3 linked regions of the Homo sapiens genome follow. The protein of the gene in region 3 interacts with the protein of the main gene of each other region in a pairwise test. Each region holds a gene or a part of one and is shown on either strand. Other genes may lie near its edges. The genes, in order: QDPR, TTC4 and RXFP4.

The links.
Region 1: the proteins of RXFP4 (region 3) and QDPR interact in a two-hybrid assay, tested with the Homo sapiens proteins (one large-scale study listed by BioGRID and IntAct).
Region 2: the proteins of RXFP4 (region 3) and TTC4 interact in a two-hybrid assay, tested with the Homo sapiens proteins (one large-scale study listed by BioGRID and IntAct).

What each region holds. Positions count from the first base shown.
Region 1 is NC_000004.12:17,505,575-17,509,302, forward strand, and holds part of QDPR (dihydropteridine reductase), read right to left. Parts: coding exon 3,697-3,728; intron 1-3,696. UniProt on the Homo sapiens protein: Catalyzes the conversion of quinonoid dihydrobiopterin into tetrahydrobiopterin.
Region 2 is NC_000001.11:54,729,361-54,732,860, reverse strand, and holds part of TTC4 (tetratricopeptide repeat protein 4), read right to left. Parts: intron 1,376-3,500; coding exon 1,161-1,375; intron 1-1,160.
Region 3 is NC_000001.11:155,940,170-155,943,815, forward strand, and holds RXFP4 (relaxin-3 receptor 2), read left to right. Parts: upstream 1-1,468; 5' UTR 1,469-1,540; coding exon 1,541-2,665; 3' UTR 2,666-2,918; downstream 2,919-3,646. UniProt on the Homo sapiens protein: High affinity receptor for INSL5. Also acts as a receptor for RLN3/relaxin-3, as well as bradykinin and kallidin. Binding of the ligand inhibit cAMP accumulation.

The sequences.
Region 1 (3,728 bases), on a different chromosome or scaffold from region 3:
GGCACAGTGGCTCATGCCAGTAGTCCCAGCACTTTGGGAGGCAGAGGCAGAAGGATCACTTGAGCCCAGGAGTTCAAGACCAGCCCGGGCAACATAACAAGACCTCATCTCTACATTTAGTTTTTTTTAAAAAAGACTTAAATCAACACCCTGTGTCTCTCCCAGTAGGAACATTTCAGTTGATTACCTCTTTCCCCAGTTTCATGACAAAACTGAATGTTATGCTGTTTGTTCAGAAATTCTTAAGGTTGGGGGTATGGTGGAGAAGGTACTCCTCTTCCTTTGGTGGAGTAGTAGAAGAAGGAAGAGATTTTCAAAGAAAAGTTTATAAGCACAAACGCATCTCTCAATCTCTGTCTTAGAGATGCACTCTACTGCCAAGCCTTGGGTGGGGACAACCTCCACATTCAATCTACAGGGACATTAGAAACCTATAATTAATCAGAGCAGAAGAGACACTGAAGAGACACCAATTACAGAGACCCGCACCTGGCAGGGCTGCTGCTCTCCAAGCCCAGGAACCGCCCTTCCATTTAGTTTTGGCTTTTATTACTTTATTTTTTGTTTGTTTTTTAGAGAAGGTTGGGCTCTGTTGCCCAGATTGGAGTGCAGTGGCATGATCTCGGCTCATTGCAACCTCTGCCTTCCAGCCTCAAGCCACCCTCCCACCTCAGCCTCCCGAGTAGCTGGGACTACAGTTGTGTGCCACCACATTCAGCTAATTTTTGTATTTTTTTGTAGAGATGGGGTTTCGCCATGTTGCACAGGCTGGTCTTAAACTCCTGGGCTCAAGTGATCCTCCTGCCTCAGCCTCCTGAAGTGCTGGGACTACTGGCATGAGCCACTGCACCCAGCCATTTTGGCCTTTATTACTTTATTCACATGAAACTATTTTGCTTTAAGGCAGCTTAGCATAGCAGTTAAGAGAACAGCCGTCAGACCCCCACTGCCCATGTCCAAATAGTGGCTATGCAACCTTTTATCTGTTTGACCTTGGACAAATACCAGGGCCTTTCTGTGCCTCAGTTACCCCCATTTAAAAGGAGGATAAAATTAGAAGCTTTGTTTGGGGATGTAATGAAGACTACACGTGTTAATGAAAATAAAGCACTGAGAATGGTGCCTGGCAACTAACAATGATGCCATGTCAACTTTCACTATTAAATTCACTAAGGTCAATCTGTATGACTTAGGTATGGGAACATTGAGACCACAGTGAGAAAAATAAGAACAACAAAAATGAAGTGCTAAAATAAGTCATCTGGCTTTTACATTCCAATCTATGTCAAACTGACACTTTAGAAAGAGCAAATGAGTAGCAGAGTTGTGCTCACAGTTTTATGTTCAAAATGTATAGATTTATACATGTATATTTTGGAGAGACAGACTGGAAGGAAATATAAATAAATGATTAACTATATGGTAGAACTATAAATGATTTCCCTTTTCTTTTTGCTTATTTGTATTTTCTATATCATACATGCATCACTTCTAAAATTTTAAAAATTTGTTATAAAAACCAGATAAGGATCATAAAACATCAGTATTGAGATTACCAAGGAAAGTGCAACTAAATGAAAAGCAGACCCACGTACAGACCAAGTGGCACCTGAACTTATTAAAGTTCGTATCTGGAGACCTATGATCCTGACTCCACCACTGAGTAGCTTGTTGGCCTTGTCACTTAGTCGCGCAAACTTGTCTTCACAGCTGTAAAATGGCCTGCCTGCCTGCCACACTGAGTGGTTGGGAAAATAAGGCGCTTCACATAGTGATGTGAAGTTATCCTTGGGAATGTGGGCTACAGCACTAAAAACCATTAAACACAGAGTCAGCTGCGCACAGTGGCTACTCAGGAAGTCCCAGCTATTCGGGAGAATGAAGCAGAAGGATCCTTTGAGCCCAGGAGTTCCAGTCCAGCCTGGGCAACACAGTGAGAACCTGACTCAAAAGTCATCCAGGCAGCTCACCAGAAGGGCTTCTCAAGAAAGTTAAGCACTGCTTAAGAGCATCAAAGATTTTTCTTTCTTTTTTTTTTTTTTGTTTTGAGACAGAGTCTCACTCTGTCACCCAGGATGGAGTGCAGTGGCACAATCTTGGCTCACTGCAACCTCTGCCTCCCAGGTTCAAGTGATTCTCCTGCCTCAGCCTCCCGAGTAGCTGGGACTACAGGCGTGCACCACCACGCTCAGCTAATTTTTGTATTTTTAGTAGAGACGGGGTTTCACCATGTTGGCCAGGATGGTCTTGATCTCCTGACCTCGTGATCCGCCCATCTCAGCCTTCCAAAGTGCTGGGATTACAGGTGTCAGCCACTGCACCCAGCCTAGAGCATCTAAGATATTTATACCAGGATATCCATCAAACTGTTAATAGTGCATCCTTCTGGGAAATGATACTATGATGGGGAGAAAAGGGACAGTTTCACAGTTTATTTCTATATTTACGTAGTTTTGTTGGACTTTTGTTTTATAATATGCATATCATTTTATAATTAAAAATAACCTGTTTTGTTAGTGTTCCTGCTGTGAACTGGGTAACTCCACTTTTTAGAATGTATCCTAAATAATCAGATATGTGGGCCAGGTGCAGTGGCTCATTCCTATAATCCCATTACTTTGGGAGGCCAAGGTGGGTGGATAACTTGAGGTCAGAAGTTCGAGACCAGCCTGGCCAACATGGCAAAAACCTGTCTCTACTAAAAATACAAAAAAGTTAGCTGGGCATTGGGGTGCATGCCTGTAATCCCAGCTACTCAGGAGACTGAGGCACAAGAATTGTTTGAATCCGGGAGGCAGAGGTGGCAGTGAGCTGAGATTGTGCCACTGCACTCCAGTGTCAACAGTAGAGCAAGACTCTCTTAAAACAAAAAACAATAATAATCAGATATGTAGACAAAGACGTTCATCACAACATTCTTGACAATAGTAAAACAAAAATCCTGCAAAAAACTCAAATGTACAATAAACAAACTAAATAAATTGTGGCCATTCCATAAAATGGAATATCACACATCTACAAAGAGGTTTTTTCAGTAATCTGGAGAATTATTTAAGTATAAAAAAAAAAAAAAACAAAGCTTACCATAAACTATAAAATACAAAATTACCTAAACTTGTAAAAGGAGTAACATACAATATGCATAGAAAAAGACAATAGGCCAAAATGTTAACAGTGAACTAACTCAAAATGATTATATAATTTATCTTTGTATCATTTTTCACTTTTTCCAAATTTTCCTCAATGAACACAAATGGCTTTCCTAGTTAGAGAAACAACAGCTTTAAAAAAAAGGAAGAACAGGCCAGGCGCGGTGGCTCATGCCTGTAATCCGAGCACTTTGGGAGGCTAAGGCGGGCGGATCACAAGGTCAGGAGTTCAAGATCAGCCTGGCCAACATGGTGAAACCCCGTCTCTACTGAAAATACAAAAAATTAGCTGGGGGTGGTGGCAGGCACCTGTAATCCCAGCTACTCAGGAGGCTGAGGCAGGAGAATTGCTTCAACCCAGGAGGCAAAGGTTGCAGTGAACGGAGATCATGCCACTGCACTCCAGCCTGGGCGACAGAGCAAGACTCCGTCTCGGGGAAAAAAAGAAATAAAAGGAAGAACATACAGCCAAAGGAAGAACATACAGCCAGTGGTCACCTCTCCCCAGGGTTCCCCTCACAATGTTTGGGGGCCTTTTTGAAACTACCTGGTCAGCCTGCTCAGTGAACGAGTCTGTCA
Region 2 (3,500 bases), about 100 Mb from region 3:
TCCTGTCTTGGCCTCCCAAAGTGTTGGGATTACAGGCATGAGCCACCATGCCCAGCTGACATAATTTTCTTTAAACAGCTTCAAGGTTAAAAACATTTCTGGTAGGGTGCAGTGGCTCATGCCTGTAAATCCCAGCACTTTGGGAGGCCGAGGTGGGAGGAACATTCGAGCCCAGGAGTTCAAGACAAGCCTGGGCAACATAGAGAGACTCTGTGTCTACCAAAGAATTAAAAAATTACCCAGATGTGGTGATGTTCACCTGTAGTCCCAGCTACTTGAGAGGCTGAGGCAGGAGGATCACCTGAGCCTGGGGGCTGGAGGCTGTGATGAACCATAATCATGCCACTGCACTCCAGCCTGGGCAACAGAGCGAGACTTGGTCTCCAAAAAAAAAAAAAAAATTACAAAAAAACTTTTCTTACACTCTTACACTTAGACTCATTCTACACATTAACCCTATGAAATCACAAGTTAAGTCTGATATATATACATATCTATCAAAGACATACATATATCTCTTTTTTATTTTTTTTTTTTTTTGAGACAGAGTCTTGCTTTGTCACCCAGGCTGGAGTGTAGTGGCATGATCTCGGCTCACTGCACCCTCCACCTCCCAGGTTCAAGTGATTCTCATGCCTCAGCCTCCTGAGTAGCTGATATTACAGATGCCCAGCTAATTTTTTGTATTTTTAGTAGAGACTGGGTTTCACCATGTTGGCCAGGCTGGTCTCGAACTCCTGGCCTCAAGTAATCTGCCTGACTCGGCCTCCCAAAGTGCTGGGATTACAGGCATAAGCCACAGCGCCCAGCCTCTATATTTTTTTTTCTAATTAATATTCACTTAAATTGCTATGCATGTATTACCTAAAATGACTTCCTATTTCACCAGTGATGTGTACCACTCTTTGGCAAACACAATACTGTGGTGTTGCATGTACTAGCCCAGTTAGTATGACGATGAGACTTTTGTCTGTCGTTGCAAACCTAGTTAGTCAAGGTTCAGTCAGCTACAGGATAGAGAGGTTATTATCAAACCAGATGGTGTGAAACCCTCTAAACCATTATCTTCCCTTCTCAACCAAAAATCCACTCGTCCCTCCTGCCACAAAAACAGAGACAGCATGCAAGCAAAAGCAGAGGGCTCCTGGGCAAGTCAGTACCTGGAGTCCTCATGAAAAGCAGAGATGAAGTCCGACTGGGCATACTCTGGGTACAGAAAGAGCACAGGCCAGCTCAGCCTGCCCTGGCCATCTAGACTCAGCCTGGCTCCATGGGGGTTCTCAGTGCTGAGTCCATCCAGGAAAAGCTCACCTAGACCTTCTGAGGCTGAATCTTCATCCTCACAGGCAGCTTCTGAGAGCCTGATATTCCTAGCCTGGGTTAAAGACAGAAACACACACACATAATGCACATCTTATTGTGTGGGAGGATGCAAACCCATTTTACTGAAATAAAGAAACCATAATGCCTGGCTAATTTTTTTATTTTTTATTTATTTTTATTTTTTGAAGAGACGGAGTTTCACTATATTGCCCAGGCTGCACGACTAACTTTATTTTTAATTTAATTTTCTTCATCTGTACCCTGAATGAACATGGACAACTAACTTTAATACATCAAAAAACAAACAAACAAAAAAAAACACCATAACAATGGGAGCTCCCTGAGGGACAGCTCTACACACAATCCATCTTCATTATCCCTGAGGCCTGGCACATAGTAGGTACCACTTAACTCACCTTCATTGGGCATCTATCTTGTGCTGGACCCTGTGTCACAGAGAACTAGACATGGCTACCTGCCCTCAAGCCTCTGCTCAATATCAAGTGGTGAGACAGCTATGGAAATAATGATGATATAAGGTAAGAAGTGGAGTTGTAGTACCATAGACGATGGAATAATTAATTCAGCCTTGGGGGCTGGAGGTGACTGAGATATGCTAGGCCTTGAACAATGACTTTGAAAAGCAGAGAAGTTGGAAGGGAGGGGCACTTAGAAGGGAGGAAGAGCCTTCCACTCCAACGAGCAGCAAGTGCAAAAGGACAGAAAAGATAAAAAAAAAAAAAAAGAAATGTCAAATATTTCAGTTTAGTTGGGACATGGAATACTAGAAAGAGTGTGCATTGACTTAATCTTGACTGTCTCCTAGACATGGGCATAAATTAAGGGTCTGAAATAGTAGGGTCACCTCTTATGTAAGTGTGCAGGGGTGCCTAAGGTTAGCACATGAGGGGAAATGACATGCAATCAAAATTAGATTTGATGATATCCCCTAAATTGGAGGTTAGCAAACTTTTTCTTAAAGCATTAGATATGAAATATTTTAAGAGTTCTGGACAATGGTCTCTGTCAAAATTAACTACTCAACTCTGCCACTGTAGTGTGAAAACAGCCATAAGTAGTACATAAACAAATAGGCAGGGCTGTGTTCCAACGGCTGCAGTTTGCTGACTCCTCCCTTTAACCATTAGTAAAATACAGCATGCATGGCTTCGTGTACTGTTGAGAGTAACTCTTATGTATGCTAAGTTTGAGATGAAGGGTTACACTAAAGAAGAGAACCAAAAAAAAAAAAAAAAAGGATTTATGCAAATGTCTGGGTGTCTGGGCATCTCATATTCTACAATTAAGAAAACGAACAAATCCCTCACTGTGAATGAGAATTAGATGGAAAATCTGGAGTATTCTAATCTGTTTAACGTGTTAATACATGTAAACAGATTGTTGTGGGGAGGGAATAGTGGAGTATGTTTTAGCAGTGTTAAGTTTCTTACAGTCAACAAGTAACATAAATGGTGCATAATTTAACTGAACAAATAATAAAACAAAAAACCTACCCCGGTTGGGCACCGTGGCTCACGCCTATAATCCCAGCACTATAGGAGGCCAAGGCAGGTGGATCGCCTGAGGTCAAGAGTTCAAGACCAGCCTGACCAATATGGTGAAACCCCGTCTCTACTAAAAATACAAAAATTAGCTGGGCATGGTGGTGTGCACCTGTAGTCCCAGCTACTCGGGAGGCTGAAGCAGAATTGCTTGAACCCAGGAAGTGGAGGCTGCAGTGAGCCGAGATTGCACCACTGCACTCCAGCCTGGGTGACAGAGAGACATTCCATCTCAAAAAAAAAAAAAACCTATCCCATAATCTCCCAGCAGATATTCTCTCCTTTGTTAAGACCAAACAATCTCAAACAGGTGACTCCCTAGGTATCAAGGTTAAAGCAAGATTTGGGTCAGACTATATATATTTCAAAATACAGAAAAGAGAAAGACAGGGTGGCATTTTGTTATTGTTGTTGTTGTTATAGGAACAACATCCTAAAATGTCAGACTTTCTCAGGATGCTGTACAACCCAGTGGTTAAGAGCAAGGACCCGGCTCTAACACATGTTAGCTGTGTAAGGTTTCTTCACCTCTCTGAAACTATTATCCAAAAAAACAGAAGCAAGACAACCTATTTCAGAAGGCCACTGTGAAGCTTAAATAACACTTAACCCAAA
Region 3 (3,646 bases):
AGCAGCCATGAGGCCAGAAGGTAGCCTGTGGGGCTCACCTGACCTTGGGCTGGGCACTCCCCTTCTGCCACCCCCTTTATACTCATCCCTGGTTCGAAAGCCCCAACATGTTGGCACCCAGCCTGTATCACTCTCACCTCTGGGTTTCTCCTATGTGTTCACAAGCCCACTGCTGATTTATTGTCGCAAAGGGCCCCTCTCTTCCCTCAGCACTCCAAAGGAACTGAACATCGAACGTTATCTTAATTAGCTGGCAGAGGGCAAGAAGGGGCTGAATATATTGGAATCCTTGAGAAAGCCTTACTCTTTTACCTATCCACCTCCTGCCTTCTCTTTGTCCCCACCTCAGCTCCTTCTGCAGTAGGTAGAGATGTAGGCAATGAAAGGGGAGGGCCCAATGAAGCATTTTTTTTTTCCAGTTATGATTGAGATCATGGGGAGACAGGATGAGGTGTGGTGAGGGCGTATCTCAGGATCCTTAGCTCTGACATGGGGTTTGCAGGAGAGAGTAGGGGGACCGCTGAGCTCTGTCCACAGACTAGAGCAGGAAAGGGGGGAAAGGCGGCGATAGAGGTTAGCAGGAATGTTTAATTATCAGGAGCAGGAACAGAACTGAGGGCATGCCCAGGTCCACACAGGCCCTCATAGGCCCAGTGTTCCCAGTGGGGAGGAAACAGGAAGCTGTGACTTCCTCTCTCTTTTCCCTCCCTGCTCTTAGCCTCAAGGTCACTGCTGCTGAGATGAATTCCAACCTGTTTTAGTTGGCACTGTTCCCTGGGCATGGTAATAGCCTCTCAGTACCCTTCTGCCACAAACACCCCAAACTTCTCCTTTGAAATAATATTCATACAAATTGCTATTTCACATGTGTTCTCTCATTGCATCATGCCACTCCTGTGAAGCAGACTTACCTGAAAATTTTAAGCAAGAAAACAGGCTTAGGGGAGTAAAGTAACTCTCCCAGTCACACGGCTAGTGAGCAGCAGGTCTGGGACTCCGCAGCCTCCGCTCTTTCCTCTCTTGGACACCCATGCTGATTCCCTGCCTCTATGCCACCTCCCAGGCCCCTTGCTTTGGGCCCCAAGGGAACACTTTCTGCAGAGGAGGGAGGCCTCTGCACTGTTAGGAACAGAGGCAGCTCTAGTTTGGTTCCTGTCATCTCTGGGACAGGGAACCTCCAGCTCTCTCCCTGGGGTGGAGGCTTGGGGCTGCCCTCCATAGCGGGGTAACTCTCCCTTCTCCCCTCCCTCTCTGCCATTTAGAGCCCCTCTTACAGGCGGGCGCATGCACATATACCCTGGCATTCAGGCTGTGCCTCGCCCTGCCCCACCTACCACCAATCTTGACCAACAGGAAGGTGGTGGGTTGTCCTTTCCACACCCCTCCCTCTGAGGTGTGGGCGTGGGCCAGGGCTCACCAGAGGCCCCAGAGAAGCACTTAATTCTACAGCCTCCTTCCTAGAGCCTTCAGTGGCCTCTGCCAGTCTGGCAGACACTTGCAGACCTCTCTTCTCAGCACCACCAATCTCTGATGCCCTGCGATGCCCACACTCAATACTTCTGCCTCTCCACCCACATTCTTCTGGGCCAATGCCTCCGGAGGCAGTGTGCTGAGTGCTGATGATGCTCCGATGCCTGTCAAATTCCTAGCCCTGAGGCTCATGGTTGCCCTGGCCTATGGGCTTGTGGGGGCCATTGGCTTGCTGGGAAATTTGGCGGTGCTGTGGGTACTGAGTAACTGTGCCCGGAGAGCCCCTGGCCCACCTTCAGACACCTTCGTCTTCAACCTGGCTCTGGCGGACCTGGGACTGGCACTCACTCTCCCCTTTTGGGCAGCCGAGTCGGCACTGGACTTTCACTGGCCCTTCGGAGGTGCCCTCTGCAAGATGGTTCTGACGGCCACTGTCCTCAACGTCTATGCCAGCATCTTCCTCATCACAGCGCTGAGCGTTGCTCGCTACTGGGTGGTGGCCATGGCTGCGGGGCCAGGCACCCACCTCTCACTCTTCTGGGCCCGAATAGCCACCCTGGCAGTGTGGGCGGCGGCTGCCCTGGTGACGGTGCCCACAGCTGTCTTCGGGGTGGAGGGTGAGGTGTGTGGTGTGCGCCTTTGCCTGCTGCGTTTCCCCAGCAGGTACTGGCTGGGGGCCTACCAGCTGCAGAGGGTGGTGCTGGCTTTCATGGTGCCCTTGGGCGTCATCACCACCAGCTACCTGCTGCTGCTGGCCTTCCTGCAGCGGCGGCAACGGCGGCGGCAGGACAGCAGGGTCGTGGCCCGCTCTGTCCGCATCCTGGTGGCTTCCTTCTTCCTCTGCTGGTTTCCCAACCATGTGGTCACTCTCTGGGGTGTCCTGGTGAAGTTTGACCTGGTGCCCTGGAACAGTACTTTCTATACTATCCAGACGTATGTCTTCCCTGTCACTACTTGCTTGGCACACAGCAATAGCTGCCTCAACCCTGTGCTGTACTGTCTCCTGAGGCGGGAGCCCCGGCAGGCTCTGGCAGGCACCTTCAGGGATCTGCGGTTGAGGCTGTGGCCCCAGGGCGGAGGCTGGGTGCAACAGGTGGCCCTAAAGCAGGTAGGCAGGCGGTGGGTCGCAAGCAACCCCCGGGAGAGCCGCCCTTCTACCCTGCTCACCAACCTGGACAGAGGGACACCCGGGTGAAGGGCGCAAGCTGAACACACTCCTCTTTCTGAGATCCACCAAGTGTAGGATCCTTGAGTCCTGGGGAGAAGCTGCCCTCTCTGCCAGGCTGCAGTGCCCTCAGGGAAAAGTCTGATCTTTGATCCCCAACTCTGGGTGTGGTGAATGGGGGAGGCGGGGGCTCAGATCAGAGCTGGATGTGACAAAGCTTAAGTCTTTATTTGGAGATGGGAAAGAAGAGGATCTGAGAATAAACCTCTGGATTATCCACAAATTGTCTTGACCTTTTATCCCAGTTCCACCTCCAGTTCAGTATGGAACAAAAGGATTCGTTGCTCCATTTCTGCTTTCTGCAAGAATACCTAGGAAAACTTCCCTAAGGGTTCTAGGCTAATGAATCAGAGGTCAGTGCCCATCTCTCTCTGTACCCACCCCCCACCTCAAAACAGGGTATCCCTTGTCTTTCTCCGGTATCAAGGCCAAAAATGCCAGCTTCCCCTGTCCTCACCTTACCATCTCAGTGGTGACCACTGAAACTTGCTGCCTGCAGAGGCCTCAGCTGCAAAAGCTGTAGTTCCCTTGAAGGGATGCCAGGTGTGGGGTATTGCTGGAATTTCCAGCACCTGCCAGGCCCTGGGTGTAAAACCCTGGTGCTGACGGGAGTGCCTGTGTGTCTCCCTTTAAATCAGGATTTGAAAGAAGTGAAGATAATGACAAGTCAAAGACATGGGTGGGGTGAAGGGAGGTGAGCGATTAAAGAGGGGAGGGGGCTGGGAGAACAGGCTGCAGGTAGAGCCAGAAAAGCAGAGACCTCAGAAAGTGGTGCTAGTCCTCCCTGCCCCAAATGCAAAGCCCAGAGTATCAATTTGAGTGTCAGAGCACCTGGATTCACAGCTTTACCTCCAGCAAATTACTTTACCTCTTTGTACCTCACTGTTCTCAACTGTAAAATGGGCTACTAAAGATTTAACAGTGAAATATACTGTTAGCTATTATTCTTGT